2 linked regions of the Homo sapiens genome follow. The protein of the gene in region 1 interacts with the protein of each later gene in a pairwise test. Each region holds a gene or a part of one and is shown on either strand. Other genes may lie near its edges.

Region 1 (7,959 bases):
AGTGAGCCGAGATCACGCCACTGAACTTCAGCCTGGGCAACACAGCGAGACTGTCTCAAAAAAAAAAAAAAAATGCTAAGACTTACTTTGGGACATCCTTTGTCAGGGTCCATGATTCTGATTAGCTCAAGGCAGGTATTTTTTTTTTTTAATAGAGACAGCATCTTGCTATGTTGGCCAGGCTCGTCTCGAACTCCTGGCCTCCAGTGACTCCCCCCACCTCAGCCTCCCCAAGTGCTGTGATTACAGGTGTGAGCCACCACACCGGTCTGGTTTTTTTTGGTGGTTGTTGTTTTAATCCTATAATCCTGTGTCCTTTCTTCCTACCTCTGAGTAGTGCTTACTCTCTCCCCTTTAGTCATTTGAAAAGTTTATCAGAAAGTGGGTGCAGTTTCAGGCTGGGTACCGTGGCTCATGCCTGTAATCCCAACACTTTGAAATGCTTAGATGGGAGGATCATTTGAACCCAGTTCAAGATTACAGTGAGCTGTGATCGTACCATTGTACTTCAGCCAGGGTGACAGTGCAAGAGCCTGTCTCTAAAAACAAACAAAAAATTGCTTTCACACTGTGATGCTATCACATCTCTCCTAAGCTCTTGTTGGGGCTCAGAAATTGATACCCTAATATATGGCCCTTGGTCATATTGAACTGAAGAAGCCTCAAAGTCTCTCTGACATCCCTGCCACCAACTATCCCTACCAAAACACATCGTGGAATTAAAGTTTCTTTATCTACCTAAGATCCAGACCCACCAAAAAGAGCAATTATTTTTATTTACCCTTCCTGTAAGACCAAGAATGTAACCATGCCCGAACGGACTTTCACAAGATAATGTTCAAGTTAATCTCTGTTCCCTGATCTACTTACTCTCCCTAGTAATGAAAGGAGTTGGCCAGCTTGCTTTAGGCAGACAGTAAGGGAATGGTACCCAGAGAACCTCTGACCTGCCCCACAAGTGCTTACACCGGATGTTTTGTGCAGATAAGGGAACTTGCACAGGGGGCTTGCCTAAACATGCCTGCAGTGGATGATTCCTTTCCTTAACACATGCACAGTTCAGGAAATTAATCAATATGGAGTAGCTCAGTCTAAAGGCCTGCATGCACTGGTAGGACAGGGTGGAGTTGTCAGGAATTTGAGTCTTAAGCCCTAGTATTCAACTGTGAAGAGCAAACCAGAAATCTGCTTTCAGGACCCTTGTCTTTGCTGAGAGCTTTCCTTTCACTTAATAAATTCTACTCCACTCATTCTTTGATGGCTGCATGCCTAATTCTTCCTGGCTGTGAGACAAAAACCCGGACCTAGCTGAGCGAAGGAGCAAAAATCCGCAACAGTAATCCCATCAACAGAGTTTCTCTTCTTCCCCTCCCATAATCTGTTTTGCCAGGATAATATATAAGCTTTTAAGCCCTCTTGGGAAGTGGATAATCATTCTATGGTTCTCCCTGTGTACATGTTAATAAATTTGTGAGTTGATTTTTCAGCAAAGTTTCCCCAGAAGCCAAAGGGGAAATTTCCCTTGGCCCCTCCACTCTCTTTTCCCAGCTCTTCTTTTACTTTCGTTTTTATTTCCTCAGCCCAGTAGGTCACAGCCTTCTTTTTATTTCTTCTCTGTCCAAACCATCAGTATATCCTACAGGTGGGAGAGAAGCAGCTCTCTGGGAAACCAGTAAGCACCATGAGTTCTGATACTTTCTAGTACCATTTGACATATTAACATCCCCGCCACCCCTAATATGTATGGACACGCACACACATACCACATCACATGCATCACACTAACACAAACTATGTATCACATACCACACACAGCACACACAGTACCACATACCCCACACAACACCCACACCACACTACGTGCATCATGCACATATGTGCACACACCTCTTGTGATGTGTGTTTAGTGCAATTCAGAAAGTTACTCTTTGATTTAATGCACATCACTATGCTTAGAAATATTCTAGTTACTGGGATTCATCAGTGAACAATATTGAAAAAAATCCATCCCTTTGCATTCTCATGAGGGAAGCAAACACTAAACAAAATAAATTAGTAAAATATTCAGTGATAAGTGCCATGGGAACAAAATAGATTTGAAAATGTTTGGGAGGGAGAGAGGGGTACACTTGCTAACAAGTGGTCAGGATAGGGTTAGTTGAGAGGCAAAATCTGAAGGAGTTGAGGAAAGGCATTCTAGGAATAGCTGAGTGCTGACTCTTGCCCACAGTGGGAACACACAGTACAGAGCTTCTGAAGGAGACTCTAGTGACCTACTTCCCATTGTGAGTCTTTGGACTCCTATATCCCATAATCACAGGATCAAGCCTAACTTTACATATTAGAGATAATGCATTCCTCCTTGGGGATAGTTCAGGTTGATTTCTCCCTAGGCCTGCCTTTGTCAACATATTCCTGAAGTCTCATCTGCACCCCATCTCTGCTTCTAATATTGGCCACTCTGTGCATGAACCAGCCCCTCCTTCCTGCAATGGGAAACAGGTGTGAGATGGGACAGCTGTCACAATCCGTTTTGCTTTTGTCTTGCTGTTATTATTGGTAATGGTAGTTTGTTTCCTTTTTAGCATTCACTAGCTTCCTTTTCCTGATCCTTTGATAGTGTTACCAGAAAGGGGGTCCCAACCCAGACCCTAAGAGAAGGTTCTTAGATCTCGTGTGAGAAAGAATTTGGGGCAAGTCTACACAGTAAAGTGAAAGCAAGAAAGTAAAGGAATAAAAGAACGGCTACTCTACAGGCAGAGCATCAGCTTCTGGACTAAGGATACTGATATGGTTTGGCTGTGTCCCCACCTAACTCTCATCTTAAATTCCCACATATTGTGGGAGGGACCTGGTGGGAGGTAATTGAATCATGGGGGCAGGTCTTTCCCTGAGTAATTTATACTGCTGTTCTCATGATAGTCAATAAGTTTCATGAGACCTGATGGTTTTATAGAAAGGAATTTCCCTGCACAAGCTCTTTGCCTGCTGCCATCCATGTAAGACCTGACTTGCTCCTCCTTGCCTTCTGCTGTGGTTGTGAGGTCTCCCCAGACACGTGGGACTGTAAGAGCATGAAACATTTTTTCCTGGTATAAATTACTCAGTCTCAGGTATGTCTGGATCAGCAGTGTGAAAATGGACTAATACAGATACTTACAGTTATTTCTTGATTATGTACTAAACAAGGAGTGGATTATTCATATGTTTTCTGGGAAAGATGTGGGCAATTCCCAGAACCAAGCGTTCCTCCCCTTTTTAGACTATATAGGGTAGCTTCCTGACATCGCCATGGTATTTATAAACCACTATGGAGCTGGTGGGAATGCCTTCTAACTTGCTAACACATTATAATTCGTGTATAATGAGCAATGAGAATGACTAGAGGCCACTCTTGTTGCCATCTTGATTTTGGTGGGTTTTGGTCAGCTTCTTTACTGCAACCTGTTTTATCAGCAAGATCTTTATGACCTGTGTCTTGTGCCAACTGCCTATTTCATCCTGTGACTTACAATGCCTAACTTCCTGGGAATGCAGCCCAGTAGGTCTCAGCCTTATTTTACCTAGCCCCCATTCAAAATGGAGTCATTCTGGTTTGAACACCTCTGACAATAGGACAGATCTGGAATGAGCCATGCCTGGGTACAGAGTCACATCCACAACAATGAAAGTTGTAGATATCTGCAAGGACTCATCGTGGGACCAAGGATTCAGGGGCTCATTCTTTCTCCTCTCTCTGTGTGCTGGTTGCCTCAGGAGTAGAATGTCCCATGCTATGCATGGGGTCTGCAACCATCATGCCAGGGCATGATGAATCGTAGGTGGCAAAACAACAGAAGGCTCTGTGAGCACCCAGGAGGGTGCAGTGCTGAAGAGTCTTCTGCTTGGTATAGGAAGAAAGGAACGTGTTTCCCAATCTTGCCTTTATTTTGAGTAGTTGGACCAGAGGGATTGCAGCTGGGCCAAACTCCATGTTCCATTGGCTATCAGGGTCAGCAGGCAGGCCAGGGGCCCAGACAGGCCAGTGGCTCCCAGAATTCAAGTTTAATTTCTCCTCCCACCTGTGTCCTGAGCTCCCCTTACTGGTTCCCTTGGACCACTGCATCTACTTAAGCCAGCATTTATTATGTTGTTATCATAAATGCCTCTTACACCTGAGACTTATAAATGTGACAAGCTCTTATTGTGAGATAGTAATCCATCTTTTTTCCCCATGAAATAATAATTCTAACGGGTGGTGATAGTACTTTTCCTTTCATTTTGAAGTGGAGAAGCTGGAGCTAAGTCATTAAGGACTTGACCCTGGACCCCACAGCCTTTTCTCCACAAAGCACAAAGCAGAGTGATGGTCCCAGGGATCCCACACAGCTCTAAGCTGGGGGCACTCACTGCTGGGCCACTAGTGACTCCCATTTTCTATCCTGGCTGACCCTCGCTATTGAAGAAGATCTGAGTCCTGCAGAAGGACAGCAAGGAGAAAAACAAGACACAGAACGGGACAGAGAAGAATAGAAAGCTGACTCAGATGAATTTTGTGATGCCAATGAGTCCTACTGCTGTTACCACCCCTTTTTCCACCACACCCTTCAGAGCAGTTATAGAACCACAAGCAACCCATAAATAGCAAAAGAAGTAACATCAGCTAGGAAGGCTTAAGGACTCCCAAGGGAGTTGGTGGCAAAAGTAGAAAGATCTCAAATCAGAGTCTGTGAACTGAACCTCTGCAGGCTTCCTGTTTTTAGATACTCTGTGTTGGGGTCACATGATAGTTTACAGGGTTATTAATTGGTTCCTTCTTTTTATTGCTGTAAAAGAAGGATATTTTCTTCCTACGTTTCCCCCTCCTTTACCGGAGAGGCGGAGTGCAAATGATATGAACAACGTCACTAGTTTTCTCCTAAATCTTATGAGCCCCGCCTCCCACAGTAGTTTCACTTCTCAGTTTAATCCGGTCTGAGTTAACTTCCTGACCCAGGAAGTGGCAGCAACAGAGGGGACTAGCAGCGAATATGTAAGTGTCTGAGCAGTGAAGGTTACGGAAAAGGTCCAGGCTAAGGTTTTCTCAGTGGATATGTGAGTGTGTACTGATGGCAAGTGGGGTGGGGAATATATTTCGTGACAGCAGGGCCCCTCCAACTCTGAAAATGGTCAGGACTTTCTTTGTTTTACAGCTCTCACCTCTTTCCTGCTCTTTCTTTCACCAGACTTTACACCAAATCTCAGAAGATTCAGAACTTAGATGAGTGGGGCCCAGGACAGGAACCCTGGAGCCTTGGAAGGAGGGGAGCCCCATCTCCCCAGAAGAGCAGTGACCCCAGCAGAGAGGGGCCTGGTGTATCACTGGAGGAAATAGCCTGCCAAGGAATACACGTCTTCAGAAGAAATTCTGTGTGGCTTCAAGAGACTGATCAAATTGTGAGAGGAAAACAGCCTACCCGGTAATTGTAGTTAAATTACTGTTTTTTATTCTAGGCACTCTTCAAACTTCCTCCTGACTCTGCCCCTGTCCTAGAGGAGCTCCCAGGAGTAGGGGTGTGGGGGCGGGCGGGGGGGAGGGATCGGGGGTACAGGGAGAGCCCAGCTAGGTTCTCAGAAGAGGCAGGCTTTTTCGCTCCTGGTCACTCCTCTGTTGCCTATCCCTGGCCTCCCCCATCTTCTTTCTGCCTTCCCTACCTCCTTGGGTCTGCAAACTCTTTATGTTGCAATCACTCTGAACATGTCTCTTGAGATAGGTCCTGTCCTGGAGAAGAGATAGTAAAAGTAAACTCCCCAGTTCTGCAGGAGCTCTGATCCCATAGAAATAACTGCTCCTCAGGAGCAAACCCTCTGCTCTGCAGCCTTCTTTCCAATTCTTATTCCCTCAGTTTAGGGAGAGGGCACAAAAAGGATAAACCGGTTCTTCTGGTTGTTCTGGTTGCCTTGATTGCTTCCATTATCCTCCTGGTTGGGTCTCTAGCAAGACGTTATTAGCCAGGGAAGTCCCACTTAGGCACCCCTCTCTGCAGAAGAGGTATTCACTATTCTCCTTTCTCTTTCTTTTGCCTATTATACCTCTGCTCCTGAAAGCAAAAACAACAACAACAAAAACACAAACAAAAAACAACCGACCTTATTAACCAGTGTTGGTTGTTGTTCTTTGTGGGGGATGGGGGGGGTCGAGGTGGAGTCAAATTTTATTGTCATGATGGTGTAGGAGCCAAGGGAACACTTCCCCTTTGCCTTCTGAAGTTCACTGAAAAATCGACTCACAAAAGGCAGGCTAATTGGAGAAAAGGCATACAAATTTATTAACAAGTACATGGGCTAGAATCACAGAGTGATTACCCCCTCTGCCAATGGGGGTAGATACTTATATAGCCTTATTTATAAATACTTATGTATAAATACATAAATATAAATATGTATGCATATGTATGTATGTATAAATATGTATGTATACTGTATAAATATGTATGTATAACGTTTATACATGTATACATATTTATTTCAGAGGGGAAGGGTGATATCAGGAGAATATAGGTAATTCTTTGAGGGGCAGTAAATGATTACTAGGGAGAATAAATGAATATTTGGGAGGATGAATGAATGGAGGAACAGAGTTTAACTTGTAAATGGTTCTCTTTGGAAAATGAATGAGCCTGAGAGACAGACATTATTTTGTGAAAGTGTCTGATTAGGTCTGGTTACATTCTTAGTCCTCTTTTCTTCAGTACAAAATGAGATAATAGGGGTTGGAAGGAAAAACAATTGTTCTTCTTGTCTAGTGTGACTGGTCTTTATGTAGATAGGGGAAAAGTCTCTTCCAGCATCTGCTGATCTCTAAGGGCCTTTAATTCAAAATACTCATTATACCAGGGAGTCATATATTGGGGTGAAGCTCCCCATACTCCTTCAATGGAATCTGTCACAGATCACCCAATTGCATAAGTGTTACTACTAATTACAAAGAGTAATTCTGGTACCAATTATTCTTTTTTTTTTTTTTAAGACAGATTCTCGCTCTTTCACCCAGGCTGGAGTGCAGTGGTGTAATCTGGGCTCACTGCAACCTCCCCCTCCGGAGCTCAAGTCATTCTCCTTCCTCAGCCTCCTGAGCAGCTGGGATTACAGGTGTGCACCACCACATCTAGCTAACTTTTTGTATTTTTAGTAGAGATGAGGTTTTGCCATGTTGGTCAGGCTGGTCTCAAACTCCTGACCTCAGGTGATCTGCCCGCCTCGGCTTCCCAAAGTGCTAGGATTACAGGCGTGAGCCACCGTGCTGGCCTGGTAACAATTATTCTTGAAGTTAACTAGAATAGGAAAGAGTTTCACACTCCCTGAGTTCTCTCTTTTACAGCTTTTGTGAGGAAGCCTGCATTGCTTCTCCCAGCACTTGGTCCAAGGTAACTTTCTGTGATAACAGAATGTTGTATATTGAGGCTGTTATGTAGCCACTAGTCACATGCAACTATTAAGCAATCAAAATGTGGCAACTGGAACAGAAAAACTGAATTTTTTCATTTTAATTTTTATTAAGTTAAATTTAAATTCCTACTCATGATAGTGGCTACTGTATTAGCTATACAGCTAGATGTTTGTGTATCCTCTAAATTCCAATGCATTTCTTCTTTCTGGAGAGAAGACTTTAGCTGGACATGGTGGCACATACCTGTAGTCCCAGCCACTCTGCCAGGGTGAGGCAGGAGGATTGCTTAAACCCAGGAGGTCGAGGCTGCAGTGAGCTGTGGTCATGCCACTGCCCTCCACTACAGCCTGGGCAAGAGAGCGAGAACTTGTCTTATAAGAAAAGAAAAAGAGGCTGGGCACGGTGGCTCATGCCTGTAATCCTGGCACTTTGGGAGGCTGAGGCGGGTGGATCACAAGGTCAAGAGATCGAGCCAACCAACATGGTGAAACCCCATCTCTACTAAAAATACAAAAATTAGCTGGGCGTAGTGGTGCACACCTGTAGACCCA
Region 2 (7,024 bases), on another chromosome or scaffold:
TGTCAACACTTTGGGAGGTCAAGGCAGGAAGACCGTTTGAGCCTGCAGTGAAATATGATCACGCCACTGCACTCCAGCCTGGGTGACAGAGCAAGACCCAGTCTCAAAAAACAAAACAAAACAAAAACATTCACGTAAAGAGCTGTTGGCTGAGTTCTATGTTAATGAATCCACAATACACATTTAAAAAGGTGTCTTTAAGTAGAAATACACAAAAAACAGGTTATGTACTGATCAGTTGATAAAAATGTGACCAGTGGCTTGTAGGACCCTAACCCAGTACTTTCTCTAGGTGCAAGAGTTCAGTATTTTGTTAGTTTTTGTGGTGACTTTAGAACATAACTACCAAAAATAACGAGAACCTGCTGTACAGAGTAAGAGAATAATTTAGAAGTTCAAAAAAGTGCTGCAAATAGGGCTTGTAAATACTTTAGCCTATACAGAAAACTGCAGGGAGCTGCATTAAGAAAATCTACAATGAGAAATTAGACTGGGAGCACATATTTGGTTGACAACAGCTGAGAGAAGGGTAAATGATGGCTCAATGCACTCACCCTAGCTGATGGAAATCACCTGAAGAGTTTAAGCAATGTTAATATCTGGGTTCCACCACAGAGCTTGAGTTAATCGATACAGCATGCTTACAAGCTGCAAAAGCTTCCTAGGTGATTCTAATATGCAACAAAAACTTCTTAAAGTTTTACTTAGCATTCCTAAGAATCACATGCAGAGCTTGTTAGAACAGATTACTGGGTTTCACCCTCAGAGATTTTAATTCAGTAGATCTGGGATGGGACATCAGAATCTGCATAGGTGATGCTAAAGCACCATGGCTACGCATTAAGTACCACTGCCCTGTATCACTTCTGTCATGAAGCCACAGATAGCCAAGGGAACTCAGGTTGAACAAACCCCAGCAACAGAGCTCCCTTCAGCCAACACGTAACTGTTCTCATCTCTTGGTTCCACTTTTCCTCTGTGGCCTTAACTTCTACACCTCATCTTCCGCGCAGCTTGAGCTGCTGCCTGTGGGCAGCCTCAGTCCTAGCTGCGAGATCCACACCCACACATCAATTCTGGCTTTGTTCAGCTCACGTGTTCATTCTCAAACCAATTCCTGCAGACAGAGACGAATAATCTGGCCAGCCTGAGGAACGTGCCCATCTTTGTGAAAGGACTGTAAGCCACAATGTGCAAAAAGTAATCGCCCTGTCAGTTTTTGTATATTTAACAATTACTGCTACAGAGAATTTATTCCTTCATTTCCATTTTCCAAATTTTATTCCAAAAAAAGGGGATGTGTGTGGAAGATTAAGACGTCCATGAAGGGTAACCATCATCGTTACAATAAAGTATTCAATTGGACAGAAATGACAAGGACCCAATTCAGTATGTAATGTCCTATTTTCCCACTGCACCAGTTAAAAAAAGTAAAGCCTTCCTAGTGTGGAAGAGTAGGACTGCTTTTACACTGAAATGGTGCCCCAAATGAGTAATAAAATCTCTGATTCTATTTATCCTTTTCTTTCTGTTCTTTTTCTTTCTTCTCACGCTCAGCTTTGGCTTCTTCTTCCTCATGTTTTTTGATCAACTGCTCCACTTCTTTTTGTTTGAGAACTCTGATTACTGTCTTTCCATTCTCTCTTGTTAGTGTTGCAATTTCCACTAAAAACAAACACATACATTTATTTGTATTGCAGGCAGGCAGGCATACTTAGCAGAGAAGCTTAATAGGCACTCATGGTTTATGCTCGCCACATCATTGAAACGTTAGTTCAGCACTCTCCTATGTTTTATACTTAACATTATTCCCTTTTATGAGAACAATATACTTTTGATCTTGTAATGTTTTAATTATAATTTTTACTTAAATATCGTCTCCTCAGCCATTTTGTCACTCCCTTAGAAAAAGTATAATCAACCAATTGCTATTGCCGGCCTGCTATTAGCTGTGCTGATTAGACGGAACTGTTGGAACCTCTGAGGGCTCAGCCAGAATCTTCAACTGGTAATAACAGCTTATTTTTTATGGACTTTTCAAGTCTCTTAAAAAAATAAATAAATAAAAGGCATGAAATGGCCAAGAAAAGCAGACTGATACCTAAAGGGGAAGGAATTTTTTTGTACCAGGGAAACTGAGTAGTGCTTCCTTGAAACTGGGTGGAAGTAGACAAAAGAGGGCAATCTGCATGTAAATGACATTTTCTTTTTCTTTTTTTTTTTGAGATGGAGTTTTGCTCTTGTTGCCCAGGCTGGAGTGCAATGGCGCAAACTCGGCTCACTGCAACCTCCACCTCCTGGGTTCAGGTGATTCTCCTGTTTCAGCCTCCTGAGTAGCAGGATTACAGGTGCGCACCACCACGCCCGGCTAATTTTTTGTATTTTTAGTAGAGGCAGGGGTTTCACCATGTTGGCCAACCTGGTCTTGAACTCCTGACCTCAGGTGATCCACCCACCTCGGCCTCCCAAAGTGCTGGGGATTACAGGCGTGAGCCAATATGCCCGGCCGTAAATGGCATTTTCTAAGGAACACCAGGAGCTAAACTGTCCTAACATAAAGCAACATGTTAATTTACCACAATTTCTGAAAAACATTTAGAAATATTCTTTTTTTTTTTGAGACAGAGTCTCTCTCTGTCACCCACGCTGGAGTGCAGTGGCATGATCTCAACTCACTGCAGCCTCCGCTTCCCAGGTTCAAGTGATTCTCCTGCCTCAGCCTCCCAAGTAGCTGGGATTTATAGGCATGCACCACCATGCCTAGCTAATTTTTGTATTTTAAGTAGAGATGGGGCTTCACCATGTTGGCCAGGCTGATCTGGAACTCCTGGCCTCAGGTGATCCACCCACCTCAGCCTCCCAAAGTGCTGGGATTACAGGCATGAGCCACCAAGCTCGACTGAAATATTCTTTTATATAGTCATATAGCTTAAGTTGAACAAGGTATTTGGAATTGCTAACATGAGCTTAAAATAAGAGATTAGTAGATTAAGAAGAACAGGAGAGGGTATCACAACCCACGCAAATGTTGTATCTCTGGTAAAGTATACCAAACCTATGTATAAATATATAACTACATACGTATGCTTTATCATATATACACACAAGCAAAGATATCATTGATGAGAAGACTTGATAACTGTTAACTAAAAGTAGCACAGTGCAGGATGTCTATCTGTGAGTAATGAGATTGTTCAGTATCAAGCCTTTAAGTTTGGAATACAGTGTGAGATTGTGACTCCACAATTTACCAATGTTGATCTTGGTCAACTCACTTAACCTCATTAAGCCCTAGTGTCCTCAGTTAGAAGACAGGGATAACATCACCTAATTCGTAAGGTTGCTGTTTCAATGAACTAGGATGACATGTTAAAATCTTAACAGTTGCTGGCTGGGCGCAATGGCTCACGCCTGTAATCCCAGCACTTTGAGAGGCTGAAGCGGGAGGATCACCTGAGGTCAGGAGGTCATGACTAGCCTGGCCAACATGGTGAAACCCCGTCTCTACTAAAAATACAAAAATTAGCTGGGCATGGTGGCGCGAGCCTGTAGTCCCAGCTACTCGGCAGGCTGAGGCAGGAGAATCACTTGAACCAAGGAGGCGGAGGTTGCAGTGAGCTGAGATTGCGCCACTGCACTCCAGCCTGGCAACAGAGCGAGACTCCATCTCAAAAAAAAAAAAAAAAGAAAAAAATCTTAACAGCTGCTAATTTCCCTCACTCAGTCGAAAGAATTAAAGGAGAGGATATGAATTACCTTTTTCAGCAGAGAGTTTACTAACATCCATGGTCTTATTTAGTACTTTGATAGCTAAAGCAAGTGCTGACTTCAAGGTCATTTCTCCTTCTTTATAGTCTTGTTTCAACATTGACACAGCTGCCTATAAAACATGAATCAACATAGAATTTTAAGTTTTTACATTTTTTAGAAACATGAATTGGTCTAGAAGAAAAATGCCTGAATTATTATTGGCATTACAAGTATAAACAATTTTTTTTTTTTTTTTGACACAGGGGCTCACTCTGTTGCCCAGGCTGGAGTGTAGTGGCATGATCTCAGCTCACTGTATCTTCAAGTCTCCCCAGGCTCAGGTGCTCCTCCTCCCACCTTGGCCTCCTGGGTAGCTAGGATTACAGGCACATGCCATGGCGCCCAGCAAATTTTTGTATTTTTTGTAGAGATGGGGTTCTGCTATGTTGCCCAGGCTGGTCTCGAACTCCTGAGCTCGAGCAATTTGCCTGCCTCGGCCTCCCAAAGTGTTGGGATTACAGGCATGAGCCACCATGCCTGGCCCATATACATAATTTTGATGACAGGGAGGGCACACACGGCACGGGGTGAGAAGAGGGGGTACTAATGCTCTATAAAGAGTGTCTTTAACCTGGGGTCCTCAGTCTCCCAAGGGGTCTGTCATAGAATACAGGGGGTCTGTAAACTAGATGTGAAACAAAATCACAGCTTCTAATTTCACAACTCCTAACTGAAAATTAGCATTTATTAATGTAGTTAACGAACCCCAGTATATTAGCTATATCAGCAATGCTGTCACCAACAGAAATCACAGATATTTCCATATCACATTAAGGTTGTTGCAGCTATCTTAAAATACTGTTTACATTCATCACCATGGCAAAATTATGGCAGTTATTAGACATTCTGCTAGATTTTATAGCACAACAAAAATACTCACAGCGCTATTATTTCCAATGCATGTGGCCTTCCATCCCCCGTAATTTCCACTAGGGTCACTCTGATAGAGCTGAAAGCCATAGTGCTTATCCCAGCCAATGTACAGCAATGAAACACCAAAGGGACGTTTTCCTTTAACAAAGAAAAAAAGCCAAACATATCAATAATCTAAATTTAGTATCACTACAGTTACTTGAGCTCAGTGAAGGTAGCTAAACCCTACTCTGTGAACTTAAGCATTCATAAACTGTTTTGTATTCTGGCTACCATAGATAAGCTCCATTACAAATTCGACTTTTGTTTCTACGATTTGGACACAGCCAGAAGAGGGAACAGACAAAGGACCAGTGCTGAATTTCATTATTATGTAAACAGCAGTTAGTTTCCAGATTTGAAAATGTTGTTTTGGACTTTCAATATCCTATTAATAAAACGAGGGTAATCTACATGGTGGAGGAACACGTTCATTCATGAAGCAAGAATGTATGAAATTCTAGTGTTCTATACTACTGTAGGATTAATATAGTTAACCATAACATATTAGTTTCAAATAGCTAGAAGGATATGGAAGGCTCCCAACACAAGTGTTTGAGATGATGAATGTGCCATTTACCCTGATCTGATCATTATGTGCACTGAAACATCATTATGTACCTCATGAATATGTACAATTCTTATTTGCCAATTAAAAAAATTAAATTTAATTTAAAACAAAGGGTCTATTTTCAATTTTTTACTACCTCAAAAGGGTTATAACTCATAAAATGTCTTAACTTTTTCGAATAAAATTTTCAAAAAAATTAAATACCTCCAAATTGTGTATAAGCTTGTTTGATATCACACAGCGCTGTAACCAACTGCTCACAAGGTATTGGCTCCTGATACTGTAATAAATACCTAGGATAAAGAGATGGGCACATTAGTAGTTTTCTCTAAAACACAGACAGACTCTAAGGAAAATATTCTCTGAAAAGCAATCTATGCCATGGGGACAACCTAACAGTCATTTGTAATTTGAAGGGGAGGGAACAAGTCAACATCTGAATATTCTCATAGTAAATAATATTTTGTAAGTTTGGTTGAAAAAAATCTGTAATTTTCAATTCAAAGATTTTTAATGACTTTAATCTTTGCAAAAGTGAGCTCTCCTTAGAAACATCAAAACTAGGCCAGGTGCAGTGGCTAATGCCTGTAATCCCAGCACTTTGGGAGGCCAAGGCAGGCGGATCACGAGGTCAGGAAATCGAGACCATCCTGGCTAACACAGTGAAACCCCGTCTCTACTAAAAATACAAAAATTAACCCGGTGTGGTGGTCAGCTACTTGGGAGGCTGAGGCAGGAGAATCGCTTGAACCCGGGAGGCGGAGGTTGCAGTGAGCCAAGATCGTGCCACTGCACTCCAGCCTGGGTGACAGAGTGAGACTCTGTCTCAAAAAAAAAAAAAAGAAACATCAAAACTAATTTCTGTATCATCAGTTATGCTATTTATGACCATACCTTTGAGCAATGAGCCTTAGTTCATTAGTCAGAACATTAGCATCAGAAGTTATGCCTGCCACACTGCAAGCCATGTCCCTTGAAGAAAAAAAGACATTGATCTGTAAGCAGGGAAGATGCTTGCAAGGAGTGTTTATAAGTATTTAAAAAATTCTAATTTCTATTAGAAATTCACTATGTTTGCTTCACAACAGCTACTTCCTTCAGAAAAAACCTACAAGTTTTATCTTTGTAGGAGATGTTTACTCGATGTCACTCAACATGAAAGATAAACAAATGCACCCTTTAAGTTATTTAATAGATGTATTTATCATTACCACCTATGAATAGGATAACAAAATTAACGCCAAGAAGCTAATGTAATCTCAAGAAGATTCAGCAACAAAGAATAAAAAGACAGGCTTGCCACAATGGCTCACGCCTGTAATCCCAGCACTTTGGGAGGCCGAGGTAGATGGAGGGCTTGAGCCCAGGAGATCAAGAACAGCCTGGGCAATACGGCAAAATCCCATCTCAACAAAATATACAAAAACTAACTGGGTGTGGTGGTGCGCACCTATAGTCCCAGCTACTTGGGCGGCTGAGGTGGGAGGATCACTTGAGCCCAGGAGGCAGAAGCTGCAGTGAGCCAAGATGGCGTCACCGTACTCCAGCCTGGGTGACAGAGCAAGAATCTGTCTCAAAAAAAAAAAAAAAAAAAAGATTTTGCTAGACAGACTGCTCTTGAGTAATATTCATTTCCTAAGGCCTGGCTTGACAGAGGTGACAGGGGACAATGGCAGGAGGGTTTACAAGCCTGCTTAGGAAGTACAGGGCTAGGCTCCTACTAGAGGTGCA

Evidence for each region. The genes of interacting proteins can lie anywhere in the genome.
Region 2: the proteins of TRIM38 (region 1) and PSMA4 interact in binary tests that used the Homo sapiens proteins (3 or more experiments, as listed by UniProt).

What each region holds. Positions count from the first base shown.
Region 1 is NC_000006.12:25,957,845-25,965,803, forward strand, and holds the start of TRIM38 (E3 ubiquitin-protein ligase TRIM38), read left to right. Parts: upstream 1-4,957; 5' UTR 4,958-5,011; intron 5,012-5,204; 5' UTR 5,205-5,438; intron 5,439-7,959. UniProt on the Homo sapiens protein: E3 ubiquitin-protein and E3 SUMO-protein ligase that acts as a regulator of innate immunity. Acts as a negative regulator of type I interferon IFN-beta production by catalyzing 'Lys-48'-linked polyubiquitination of AZI2/NAP1, leading to its degradation.
Region 2 is NC_000015.10:78,543,431-78,550,454, reverse strand, and holds part of PSMA4 (proteasome subunit alpha type-4), read right to left. Parts: intron 6,266-7,024; coding exon 6,188-6,265; intron 5,587-6,187; coding exon 5,498-5,586; intron 4,822-5,497; coding exon 4,691-4,821; intron 3,881-4,690; coding exon 3,757-3,880; intron 1,666-3,756; coding exon 1,511-1,665; 3' UTR 1-1,510. UniProt on the Homo sapiens protein: Component of the 20S core proteasome complex involved in the proteolytic degradation of most intracellular proteins. This complex plays numerous essential roles within the cell by associating with different regulatory particles.